Homo sapiens: one gene and its partners. The protein of the gene in region 3 purifies or fractionates together with the protein of the main gene of each other region. This does not show direct contact. Each region holds a gene or a part of one and is shown on either strand. Other genes may lie near its edges. The genes, in order: RSF1, RRP15 and FAM133B.

What was found.
Region 1: the proteins of FAM133B (region 3) and RSF1 fractionate together in Homo sapiens (co-fractionation; one large-scale study listed by BioGRID). This does not show direct contact.
Region 2: the proteins of FAM133B (region 3) and RRP15 fractionate together in Homo sapiens (co-fractionation; one large-scale study listed by BioGRID). This does not show direct contact.

Annotation. Positions count from the first base shown.
Region 1 is NC_000011.10:77,814,072-77,817,722, reverse strand, and holds part of RSF1 (remodeling and spacing factor 1), read left to right. Parts: intron 1-3,651. UniProt on the Homo sapiens protein: Regulatory subunit of the ATP-dependent RSF-1 and RSF-5 ISWI chromatin-remodeling complexes, which form ordered nucleosome arrays on chromatin and facilitate access to DNA during DNA-templated processes such as DNA replication, transcription, and repair.
Region 2 is NC_000001.11:218,288,195-218,291,845, forward strand, and holds part of RRP15 (RRP15-like protein), read left to right. Parts: intron 1-3,651.
Region 3 is NC_000007.14:92,587,516-92,591,894, reverse strand, and holds the start of FAM133B (protein FAM133B), read left to right. Parts: upstream 1-1,504; 5' UTR 1,505-1,603; coding exon 1,604-1,627; intron 1,628-1,845; exon of another isoform or gene 1,846-2,035; intron 2,036-4,379.

The DNA of each region.
Region 1 (3,651 bases), on a different chromosome or scaffold from region 3:
CCTATTTGGCAGGCATAGAAACTAAGGCTCAATAGATTAAGGTGCTTAAGAGTCTATAGTTAATGGTAGAATATGATTTCCAACCCAAGTCTGAGTCCAAAGCCACAAAATTATATACCTTGCCATAGTATCATGGTTTCCAAACTGCACCAAGGCACCCTAGAGCATTGTTGCCAACTCCATCTGATAGTTTAAATTTTCAAGTAGGATACAGTGGTAGCCGAAATTTGCTGGTTGCCAGGTGAGCTACTGCCTTGACATACTTCATGGTTTCAAGGTTGTGCCACATTTCTATAGATGATATGTCTTTGTGAAGCTGGTTTTTTAGCGGTTGCTGTGGTAAAATTCACAAAAAAGTCAGTATGCAGCAGGAAAGAGGATAGCAGGGTCCACTCTGATTCCAAGGTTTGAAAAGTTGTGCAGTGCCCAACAGTAATACACATTTCACAAGTAATTATGGTTAAGAATGAAGTAAAAACATTATTTGTTGAAATTTAGCTAGGTTATTTTTTCACATGGCTACTGACTACTTAATAAGTGGAAGTGTTATTATTTCTGGCCTAGGGCTGCTGTGAGAAAATTACTGAGATACTGAGGGTGCCGTGAAGCTAGAATGTTTGAGAACCTTTGCTCTAGAAACTATCATTGAATTTCGGGGCAAGAAAGAAGGGACTATTGTGTCATTGCCTTTATTTTTCAGGAGGAAAATCAAGCTACAGAGAGAGATTTCAAGTGTATACAGCTAACTGTTGGTGTTAGTCAAATTCTTATTTGAAAAGCCCACATATATGCTGAAATTGTCAACAAAAAATTTAGATTTATAGTTGATACTAGTTATAAAAGGATGTGCCAAATGAAGGTGGTGTTTTATCCTCCTCTCCCTGCAGTCTACTTTAGTCCTCCCAATTCTGTGCTTTGTGTGGACTTCCCCAGGTTTCTCCTAACTGGAGGTAGATGATGGTGGTTATGGATAAAGTTGACGTTGACTTTGTGAGATCCCTGACACCCAAGGCTCCTAAGTATCTTTCCTCTCCTGCAGAGAATATTTCTTTTCAAGAGGAAACTATACTACTGTATTCTTTAAAAACAGTCTGGATATTGGTTGAGATGTTACATATATCTAATAAATTTATTAAGGTAAATACAGATAATGTGTTAGGATTCTCATAGTTTATACTATGGTTGGCTGAATTAGTTGTATGATATTAAGTAAGTTGAGCCATTAGTTTTTTGTTTCATTTTTGCATTTAATGATTTGAATTTTAACTCGAAGTGAAAATATCAAAGTTAAAAAAATGCCTTTTTAACTGGAATTGTAACTATAACTTACTATGGTCTCTCTTACTGGTACTGTAACTGATCTGTGTGTAACAATATATTTTTAGGTGCATTTGATAAAGTGGAAAGGTGATTACTGTAACTGGGGCCACATGTGTTGATTTAAACAAAAGATTTTACCAGGTGCATGTACTAGAGGTTGCATGAGTCTACAGTGGTAGACACTGGTAGGGCATACATACATTAATAGTAGTATTGCTGGGGCCAGAGCCTGGTTAGGTTGAAACTTTTTAGTTGTGTCTCTTCTGCCTTTGAAAAAGCAAATATTCTTTAGGGCACTTATTAGATGAAAAGAGAGAAACAGATTTCATCTCCACCATTTTCGATATGTCATAGAGTAAAGTTACGGAGGTTTGGAGGGAGGTTGTTGTCATTGTCCTAGGAACTAGGAGGTAATGGAGACAGAGGGACTTGTCTGGCTAACATGAGCCTGTTAATGCAAACTGGCTTACTTTTTAGTCTTTTAATGATTAAGAAGTTTGCCTTAAATTTAGATGTTTTGTTAAGTTCTTAAACAGACCTCACCGGTAAGAAGGTAAGCAAGCATTTATTAGTGAGGTTATTCACTTAATATATATATTGAGCATCTGCTATGTACAGATGTAGCTACAGTAAATATTGTGGGGATTATTTTTTTAAAAAAACATTAAACATGAGCCTTTTAAAAGAAATTTCTAATCTAGTAAGAAATAGCTAAACTGAGCTTGAAACTAATGACATCATTCAAAGACTTAGTTTTTTTTCTCTGAGATTTTATCAAGTGGAGCAATAGTCCGTGCATTCTAGTCTACAGTTGTAAACTAAAATTATCTAACAATTTTATGGTGAGATGTATGACCACATGCAATATGAAAAAGAATAATTCAGGCCTAAAGTACATGTTAAACTGAATCATGTATTCAAGGAAGACAGTTATGTGTGTTGTTAGATTTAATAAAATTTTACTCTACCTGATGGGTATAGTCTTAATATATTATGCTTGGCTTTTTTTGTTTGTTTTCTGTTTTTATTGTAGAGTAGATCCCACAAAAGGTATTAGGGTATTTTCTATTTTCTTTTAAAAACATTTAATTATATGGGCAATTATAATGTACACTTTGTAATTACATATGTTCTAGCAGGCTTTGATTTTTAATTTGTTTAGCTTTATATGGTCATATCTGTACGTTAGGTTTGCATTAGCTAACTTTTAAACATTTTTGCTCGCTCTTGTACTGTTGGGCACAAGCAGTGCCTCCAGGCAAATTGATGCCTAAACTAGAGAGAACAGCAGGCATTCTCTCCTTACTCTTCCACTTCCCCTTTACTTCCATTTCCTGATCCTCATGTCTGAAGTCACACCACCTTTAGCCATTTGAAGGGGCTGCTTCTTCCATTTTACGCTTTCTTTCACTTGTATGCCATAAAGTGCAGTGCCTGCTAGCTCCAGTGTGCTCTGTATGAGGTTTGCACCAGTGTGTTAGGAAGAAAGGAGGCACTGAAATTAAAAAAAAACCATATTTTGGGGGTTTCCAAGTCACTAAACAATTGAACCACAATAATAGAGGAAACTGACTTAAACAGTATTAAACTGGTATTGCTTCAAACATTATCAAAGGATTTCTGAGGTGAATGCCTACTTTATAAAAATGTATTTTTTCGGCTGGGCACGGTGGCTCATGCCTGTAATCCCAGCACTTAGGGAGGCCCAGGCGGCGGATCACCTGAGGTCAGGAGTTTGAGACCAGCCTGGCGAACATGGTGAAACCCCATCTGTACTAAAAATACAAAAATTAGTCAGACCTGGTGTCAGGCGCCTGTAATCCCAGCTACTCGGGAGACCGAGGCAGGAGAATCGCTTGAACCTGGGAGGCAGAGGTTGCAGTGAGCCAAGATGGTGCCACTGCACTCCAGCCTGGGTGACAGAGCGAGACTCTGTCCTTTTTTTTCCCCCCCAGAGTTAGGGCCTTGAATTCCTGGGCTCAAGAAATCCTCCTGCCCCAACCTCCCGAGTAGTTGGAACTACAGGCACATGCCACCATGCCCAGCTAATTTTTAAAAATTTTTTTGGTAGAGAATGAGGTCTTGCTGTATTGTCCAGGCTGGTCTTGAACTCCTGGACTCAGGTGATACTCCCACCTCGGCCTCCCAAAGTGCTGGGGTTACAGGCATGAGTCACCACTTGTGGCCAAAACTTTTTTTTTTTTTGAGACAGTCTCGCTCTGTGGCCCAGGCTGGAGTGCAGTGGCGCGATCCTGGTTCACTACAACCTCTGCCTCCTGGGTTCAAGTGATTCTCCTGCCTCACGCTCCCAAGTAACTGGGATTACAGGCA
Region 2 (3,651 bases), on a different chromosome or scaffold from region 3:
GCCAGGACAGTTTGTAGGCAATTGCAAAATTCTATGTTAGGATCTGCACTAGGACACAGCAGTGAAGACAGAGAAGGGCCCCACTTGAAATATTTTTCAAAAAGAAAGTATTCAATTTTGCAAACAGGCAACTTTCATGTGAGCTTATAGCACCATAGGTTTTGGGCATACTACACTGTTAGAGGAATTGGATAATAACAATAGTTATACTTTTGGAACTTTCCTATGTGCCTGGTTCTGTTCTGAGTTCCTTCTATATATCAGCTCAGAGAATTCTGACAACTCTATGAGATAGATGCTGCTATTATCCTCCTGTTACATTTAAAAAACTGAGGCACAGAGGCTTATAACTTGCCCACTTCTGTACATAAGCAGATAAGCAAGTTGATAAATGATACAACAATTATTGAAGTTTGATTGTAGAGCTTATGCTCTTGACCACTACCTTAATATGTTTGAGGAATCAGGAGGACATAGATAATTTTAAAAAGTATCTGGAAAGTGAAAGCGTTGGGCCTTTGAATCTAAGGAAAGAAAGGATTGGGGACAAGGAGACTTTGGTATGGAGACAAACTTTTCTCCCTCCCACTCAAGAAGATTTCATCACCAAGGGACATTTTTGTGTTCAGATTTCTATAGCACTTCCAATGTTTATAACCAGAGTATTCTTTCCTTCCTTCCTTTCTCCTAAAATCCATATGTTATTTCTGGAAGCAAATTCCCCTGTTCACTCAATTGTATAAGAGGCACCTGTGATGGTACTACCTTTCAGAGTGACTTTGTGCTAGTTATTATTATCTACCCCAATTTCCTCATCTACAAAATGAGGATAATAATAATGTCTACTTTAGGATTGTTGTAACAATTAAATGAGTTTATATATGGTAAGCATTTAATATTTGGCACATGGTACCCACTCATAAATATTAGTGATGACGATGATGTCTCTTCTGACCTAAAAAAACTGCTAGTCCCATCTCTTTTTGCCAAATAAGTTTTCCCACCTTTGGTAATGTGGTATTTGTAAGCTGGAGCTCTCCCCAGAAAAGAGGTTTGAATTATTCTAGTAACCCTGTAAGGTAGCTGATGGCATTTCTATTTTACAGATAAGAAAAGAAGCTTGGAAATAGTGCTTCCAGTATATCATATTGCTTCCTAGTAGAAAACTGTTACCTCCATAGGTGCAAGATGTTATCTGTTATTCCACTCGTTTTATTCCATAATCTAACCATTAGATCATATATTTTTGGTAAAATTCAAGATCAGTGATAACGATGTTGATAACAATTGATTGTGTCTGCTTGGTTATGCCATAGACACATTTTCTTTGCCAAAGCTGCTTCTGTCTCTAAGAAAGACACTGCCATCTACTCCCATCCAAGCTGGAAACACAAGTGTCATCCTTTAGTCTTCCTGTTGCTTCCATATCTATTTGGTTTAATTAATCCATTTATTCTGTTGCCACTACTTTAGTTCTTGCCCGCATCTCTCTCTCTCTCTTTTTTGAGATGGAGTTTTGCTCTTGTTGCCCAGGCTGGAGTGCAATGGTATGATCTCAGGTCACCCCAACCTCCACCTCCAGGGTTCAAGTGATTCTTCTGCCTCAGCCTCCCAAGTAGCTGGGATTACAGGCATGCACCACCACACCCAGCTAATTTTGTATTTTTAGTAGAGACAGAGTTTCTCCATGTTGGTCAGGCTGGTCTTGAACTCCTGACCTCAGGTGATCCACCCACCTTGGCCTCCCAAAGTGCTGGGATTACAGGCATGAGCCACTGTGCCTGGCCTTGCCTGCATCTCTTTTGTTTACATTAGTTCATAGGGTACCTATCTGTTGGGCCTGTCATTGCAGCCTTACTCCCTTCAGTCTTCTAGGCAATTGCTTCTTTAACCATCAATGTTGAAGGACCATTCTGAGTTTTGTTTTTTAATCTCCAATCTGTAATAGACAGGTGTTTTTTTTAAAAAAAATCAATGAAAAAGAGTAACTGGAAACATGACCACATTGTTGGACATCATGGTAATATCAAATTACTATAAATGTTTATAAATACTTACTCTCAATTTGTGAATTCGCAGTTGATTCTAGTTACAGTAATGTTCAGTAAAGTTGCAGGAAACCCTGAATCCCTGAATTAGTGAACCATTGCTTCTAGAGGAAATACAGTTTTAGGCTCCTGTGAGCCTCTGGTCAGAACATTTTTGTCATTTTATCAATACATAACCTTGTCTTATGTGGATTTTTTTTGGGTTTTTTGTTTGTTTGTTTGTTTTTGTTTTTGTTTTCTGAAACAAGATCTGGCTCTATTACCCAGGCTGCTGGAGTGCAGTGGTGCAATCTTGGCTCACTGCAACCTCTGCCTGTTAGGCTCAAGCCATCCTCCCACCTCAGCCTCTGGATTAGCTGGGACTATAGGCGTACACTACCCACACCTGGCTGATTTTTGTATTTTTGGAAGAGATGAGGTTTTGCCATGTTGCTCAGACTGGTCTTGAACTCATGAGCTCAATTGATCTGCCTGCCTTGGCCTCCCAAAGTGCTGGGATTACAGGCATGAGCCACTGCTCCCAGCCTTATGTGTGTTTTTGTTTGAAGACAAAGAAGAGCTCCACTTGAAATGGTTTTCAGAAAGAAAGTGTTTGATTTTCCTTGGCCACATGCGGGGGGCATACATCTGTAATCTCAGCACTTTGGAGGCTGAGGTGGGAGGATTGCTTGAACCCAGGAGTCTGAGGCCAGCCTAGGCAACATAGTGAGACCCCGTCACTACAAAAAAAATGGAAAAAACTAGCTGGATATGGTGGTGTGTGCCGTGTGCCTGTAATCCCAGCTACTTGGGAGGCTAAGGTGGGAGGGTTGCTTGAGCCTGGGAGTTCGAGACTGCAGTGAGCTGTGACTGTGCCACTGTACTCCAGCCTGGGTGACACAGCATGACCCTGTCCCAAAAAATAAAAAATTTAGACTGGACATGGTGGCTCACACCTGTAATCCCAGCACTTTGGGAGGCCAAGGTGGGCAGATCACTTAAAGTCAGGAATTTGAGACCAGCCTGGCTAACATGGCAAAACCCATCTCTACCAAAAAAAAAATATACAAAAAATTAGCCCAACATGGTGGTGTATGCCTGTAGTGCCAGCTACTTGTGAGGCTAAGGCATAAGAATCACTTGAACCTGGGAGGCAGAGGTTGCAGTGGGCCAAGATTGTGCCACTGCACTCCAGCCTGGCTGACAGAGTGAGACTCTGTCTCAAAAATGAATAAATAAATTTTAAAAACAAAACTCTGAGATTAAAGAAAAAGGAAAAAAAAAAGAAAGAAATCATTGAATTTTCCTTTTTTTTTTTTTTTTTTTTTTGAGATGGAGTCTCGTTCTGTTGCCAGGCTGGAGTACAGTGGTGCTATCTCGGTTCACCACAACCTCCGCCTCCCAGGTTCAAGCAATTCTTCTGCCTCAGCCTTCCGAGTAGCTGGTACTACAGGCACGTGCCACCACGCCCGGCTAATTTTTGTATTTTTAGTAGAGACGGGGTTTCAACATGTTGGCCAGGATAGTCTGGATCTCTTGACCTCATGATACACCCACCTTGGTCTCCCAAAGTGTTGGGATTACAGGCGTGAGCCACCGCGGCTGGCCCCCCACTCCCCACCCC
Region 3 (4,379 bases):
AAAACATGAAAAATAAGCCAGGAAAGAAAGAATAACTTAATATTAATAGGTTCTCCTCTTCCTCTTGTGTATAAAAAGAAGCCTGTCTTCAGTCAGAGTCCCCAGCTTAAGTCGGGGGTAATGGAGGAGGAGGAGAAATGAGAGACTGGAGGCCTCATTTTGGAAAGTGGGTTACTGAGGAAGAATCAACACTTAGTAGGGAGCAGAACCACCAAGGACTGCATGTGAGAGTTTGGAAAAGTTTTGAGACAGAAGATGGTAGTTGGGAGCATCTGTCATATAGTGTAGCATGAAAAATGCAGGGAGGGAGGGAGGCAGAGATCGGGAAAGATGATTTTAAAGCATGTTCTTGTATGTAATTAGTGTAATTCCCATTTTGCCATTTCCAAGAGTCCGGAGAAGATCCTAATTGATTTTCAACTACTTCCTAATGATACTTGCTAAGATGAACCCAGAGGGGTCGCTTTATCTATAAATACTTACTAAATATGATTATCTTCTCTGGAGCCCAGATCATCTTCCTTAAAGTTGCAGTGCAGTAGTGCCAATATTACGATATGCTATGCAGTAAAGTTGGCCCTGTGTGTGTTTATTGCCCTTACGAGTTTATAAACAGGCTCCTTGACGATAGGGATTTTTCTTAATCATCTTTGTGCCCTACCCAGCTCCAGCTTCCAGCCACCCAGTTAGTGAAAACTGTACAAACTACATGTTCAAAAATTAGTGTGAAATGAATGCACAGGTGATGAATGAATGGGATTGAAATTAAAGGGTGATTTCGTTAGCAGCGTCTATGACAGCACTGCCTTTCCCCCCACCAGCTGATGGGCTCCGTGAGGGACCAAGGCTCTTTGGTCCTCACTTTGTCCCCAGCACTTGCACTCTGTCAAGCACAAAATAAGCATCGGGAGAATCTTTGTGTCCCCTCGAATGAGTATTTCAGTGTATCAAGAATGGAAGAAAGGCCAAGCGCAGTGGCTCATGCCTGTAATCCCAGCACTTTGGGTCGAGGCGGGCGGATCACTTGAGGTCAGGAGTTATAGACCAGCCTGGCCAACGTGGTAAAACCCTGTCTCTACTAAAAATACAAAAAATTTAGCCCGGCGTGTTGACGGCCGCCTGTAATCTCAGCTACTCGGGATGCTGAGGCAGGAAAATCGCTTGAACCCGGGAGGTGGAGGCTGCAGTGAGCCTAGATCGTGCCACTGCACTCCAGCCTGGGCGACGGAGCGAGAGTCTGTCTAAAAAAAAAAAAAAAAAAAAAAAAAAAAAAAAGAATGGAAGAAAGCAAAACAATCCAAGGCCAAACTGAAGCGAGCTGCCTTGGTGGGGCTCCGGTGCAGAAGCGCAGCGTCGCCTGCTCTTGGGTGCCTAATGAACGACCGGACTCCTGCAGGCGCTCCGCCAACTGCAGCGATCTCTGGAGCCGGCCTGTCCTCCACAGAGATAGGGGGCGCTGTAGCAGAGCGCGGCCGTCGAGTCCGCGTGGTGCCGCTCTCTAGGCGGAGTGGGGAGGCGGCAAGAGGACCTGCGGCAGGCCCTCTTCGGCAGTCTCTCCGGCCCGGTTTCCCTCGGCGTGCTACTGTGCGCTCGATCCAGCACCATGGGGAAGCGGGACAATCGGGTGGTGAGTACTCAGCCGGGAAAACAGTGGGGCGACGCAGGGCCCGGCGGCAGGACAGCGAGAACCCTCGCTGTTCCCGGCCGGGCCGGAGGGCAAGCGGCAGCCCTCAGACGTGGGGCCTGGAGACCCAGCACCCTCCGCCGATCCCAGATGCGCGTGCGCCGCGCACGCAGTTGGCGCTTTAGGGTTCCCAGCTCTCTCTTGCCCGCCCCTTTTTTCTTCCCTCACCTCGTCGCTCTTTCTGGCGCTGCTGGTTTGCACTCTTGCCTGCTGTACGCGGGCCCCCAGTGCCCACTTAGAACCGCGAGGGCTCGGGGAACCCCCCCCACACCTGGCCCCGCCATGTAACTCCGAAGACTTAGGCCCTTGGACGCATCCGACTCACCCGCCCCTTGGTATCGGCCGCCCCAGGTCCGCACCCCTCTCCTGCGCACCCAAGTGGGAGGGAGGCACAGAGGCCTCGACGCGGTCCCTGTGCCGGAGAGCCAGCAGCGCGCCTGGTTTTAGCGACAAGCAGGCTCCCGTTTGAAAATGGGATGGCAGCATTTGCTTTCGTGTCTCCAGCGCCCTGTAGGACCTGGCCCCCATAGACACTGTGAGGGAATGAATGGCGTGAAAATAGTTGGCTTTCGAGTCCAACACAAAACTGGAATGTCAGTTTTGTTCCGTCGGAAGTTGGGTGACCTAGAACAAGTTACTTTTCTTCTCTGTGCCGTCGTTTATAAAAGGGGATCATTATTATCTACAACCTTACAGATTAATTGAAATCACAAAAGGCAAGATGTGTGAGCGAGTACTGGGCATGAAAATTATTACTCTAGTGAATGAGATAAAAGAGATGCATAAATAACTTACAGCAGAAAGAGTAGGAAATGGTCCTTGATAGTTGTTAGAGATTCTAAAGGCATTCAAAAGAAAAGGTGCTTTTGAGAAGCGGAGATGGGAGGAAAGTATTCTAGACCGCTGGGGCGGGGAGGGGGCTGAAAAACTCAGGTTATGAATCAGATTGAATGAGTAGTAAACATAATGAAATAACAATAAGCTTAGGTTGCAGCCTGACAATTTCTGGGCTTGCCTGTGACAAAGTTTTAGCCACTGAGTAGCAAAATGAGGAAAATGCACGTAAAACGAATGTGCTACGTTTCTTGAACTCGCTTTTTTATTCAACAATTATTTGCAAGCTGTGTGTGTCTCACACCAAAGGAGACTTAACATTTACGAAATGATGACACTTGCCATCTGTAGTAGCCAGTTCTTGCATGGCTTTTATAAAGAAAAACCTGAGGCTGGGTAATTTATAAAGAAAAGTGTTTAATTGGCTCACGGTTCTATGGGCTGTACAGGAAGCTTAGCGGCATCTGCTTCTGGGGAGGCCTCAGGGAGCTGTTACTCATGGTGGAAGGCAAAGCAGGAGCAGGCGTCTTACATGGCAGGAGCGGGACCAAGAGAGGGACGGGGAGAGTTGCTACACAGTTTTAAACAACCGCATCTGTTGAGAAATCATCTCTATGCAGTGCTGGGGAGAGGAGGATGCTAAGCCATTCATGAGAACTCCGCCCCCATGATCCAGTCACCTCCCACCAGGCCCCACCTCCAACATTGGGGATTACAATTCGACATGAGATTTGGGCGGGGACACAGATCCAAACCATTTCACCATCTTAAAAACTTTGTAGTTCTGTATAGTCTTTATAATGGAAAATGTCTAGGAACCACTGTGGTAGTGAATCTTGATTACAAGATAGCGGGTTGTTCTTTCTCCTGGCTGTAGGTGAGACTTTGTTGTGCTATCTTGATTGTCATGGCGTTGAAATTATGTAGCATAACACCATTTCAGCATAGGAGCATCCTTAGGTGTTTGAGTATTTTGGGCTCTTCTAATACCCTTGGGCCTTGAATGTTTAGAGATCACCTGACCTTGGATGCAGTTTCATATACAGACCTAAAATGTTTCATATTACTGAAAAAACGTTTTGGTTGAAACATTCCTCTAAAACATTTGAAAAACTTACCAAATTAGCTTCATTTACTAGAACATTTTGATAGCTCTGGGCTCTACTTACTACTTTTGGTATGCAGCTATGGCACAGAGTATTCTGGTAACATTTTGTGTGCACTTCAAAGATTGGGATTAAGAACAAGAAATTAAGAGGTAGAAGACACGGATTGTCTAATTCAGTCTCCTCATTGCATAGAGGAGGGGTAAGACTTTAAACTGGGACCAAAACTTCAGTCATCTGACACTCAATTCTGTACATCTTAACTCTTGATTTTCTTTTTAAGACTTTTTTTTTTAAGCATTTTTAGTTTTACAGCAAAATTGAGAGGAAGGTACAAAGATATCCCGTTTACCTCCTGACCCCACTCGTGCATAGCCTCCCCATTATGAACATCCTTCACCAGAGTGGTACATTTGTTAAAATTGATGAACCTACATTGACATGTTACTATCATCCAGTCAGTAGTTTACATTAGTGCTCACTCTTAGTGTTCATTCTCTATGGGCTTGGACAAATAAATTTATTTATTTATTTATTTAGACACAGTATCTCACTCTTGCCCAAGCTGGAGTGCAGTGTCGCCATCATGGCTCACTGCAGCTTCAACTTCCCAGGCTCAAGGGATGCTCTCACGTCAGCCTCCCAAGTAGCTGGGACCACAGGTGTGTGGAACCACACCTGGCTAATTTTTTGTTGTTTTTTTGTAGAGATGGGGTTTCACCATGCTGCCCAGGCTGGTCTCAAATTCCTGGCCT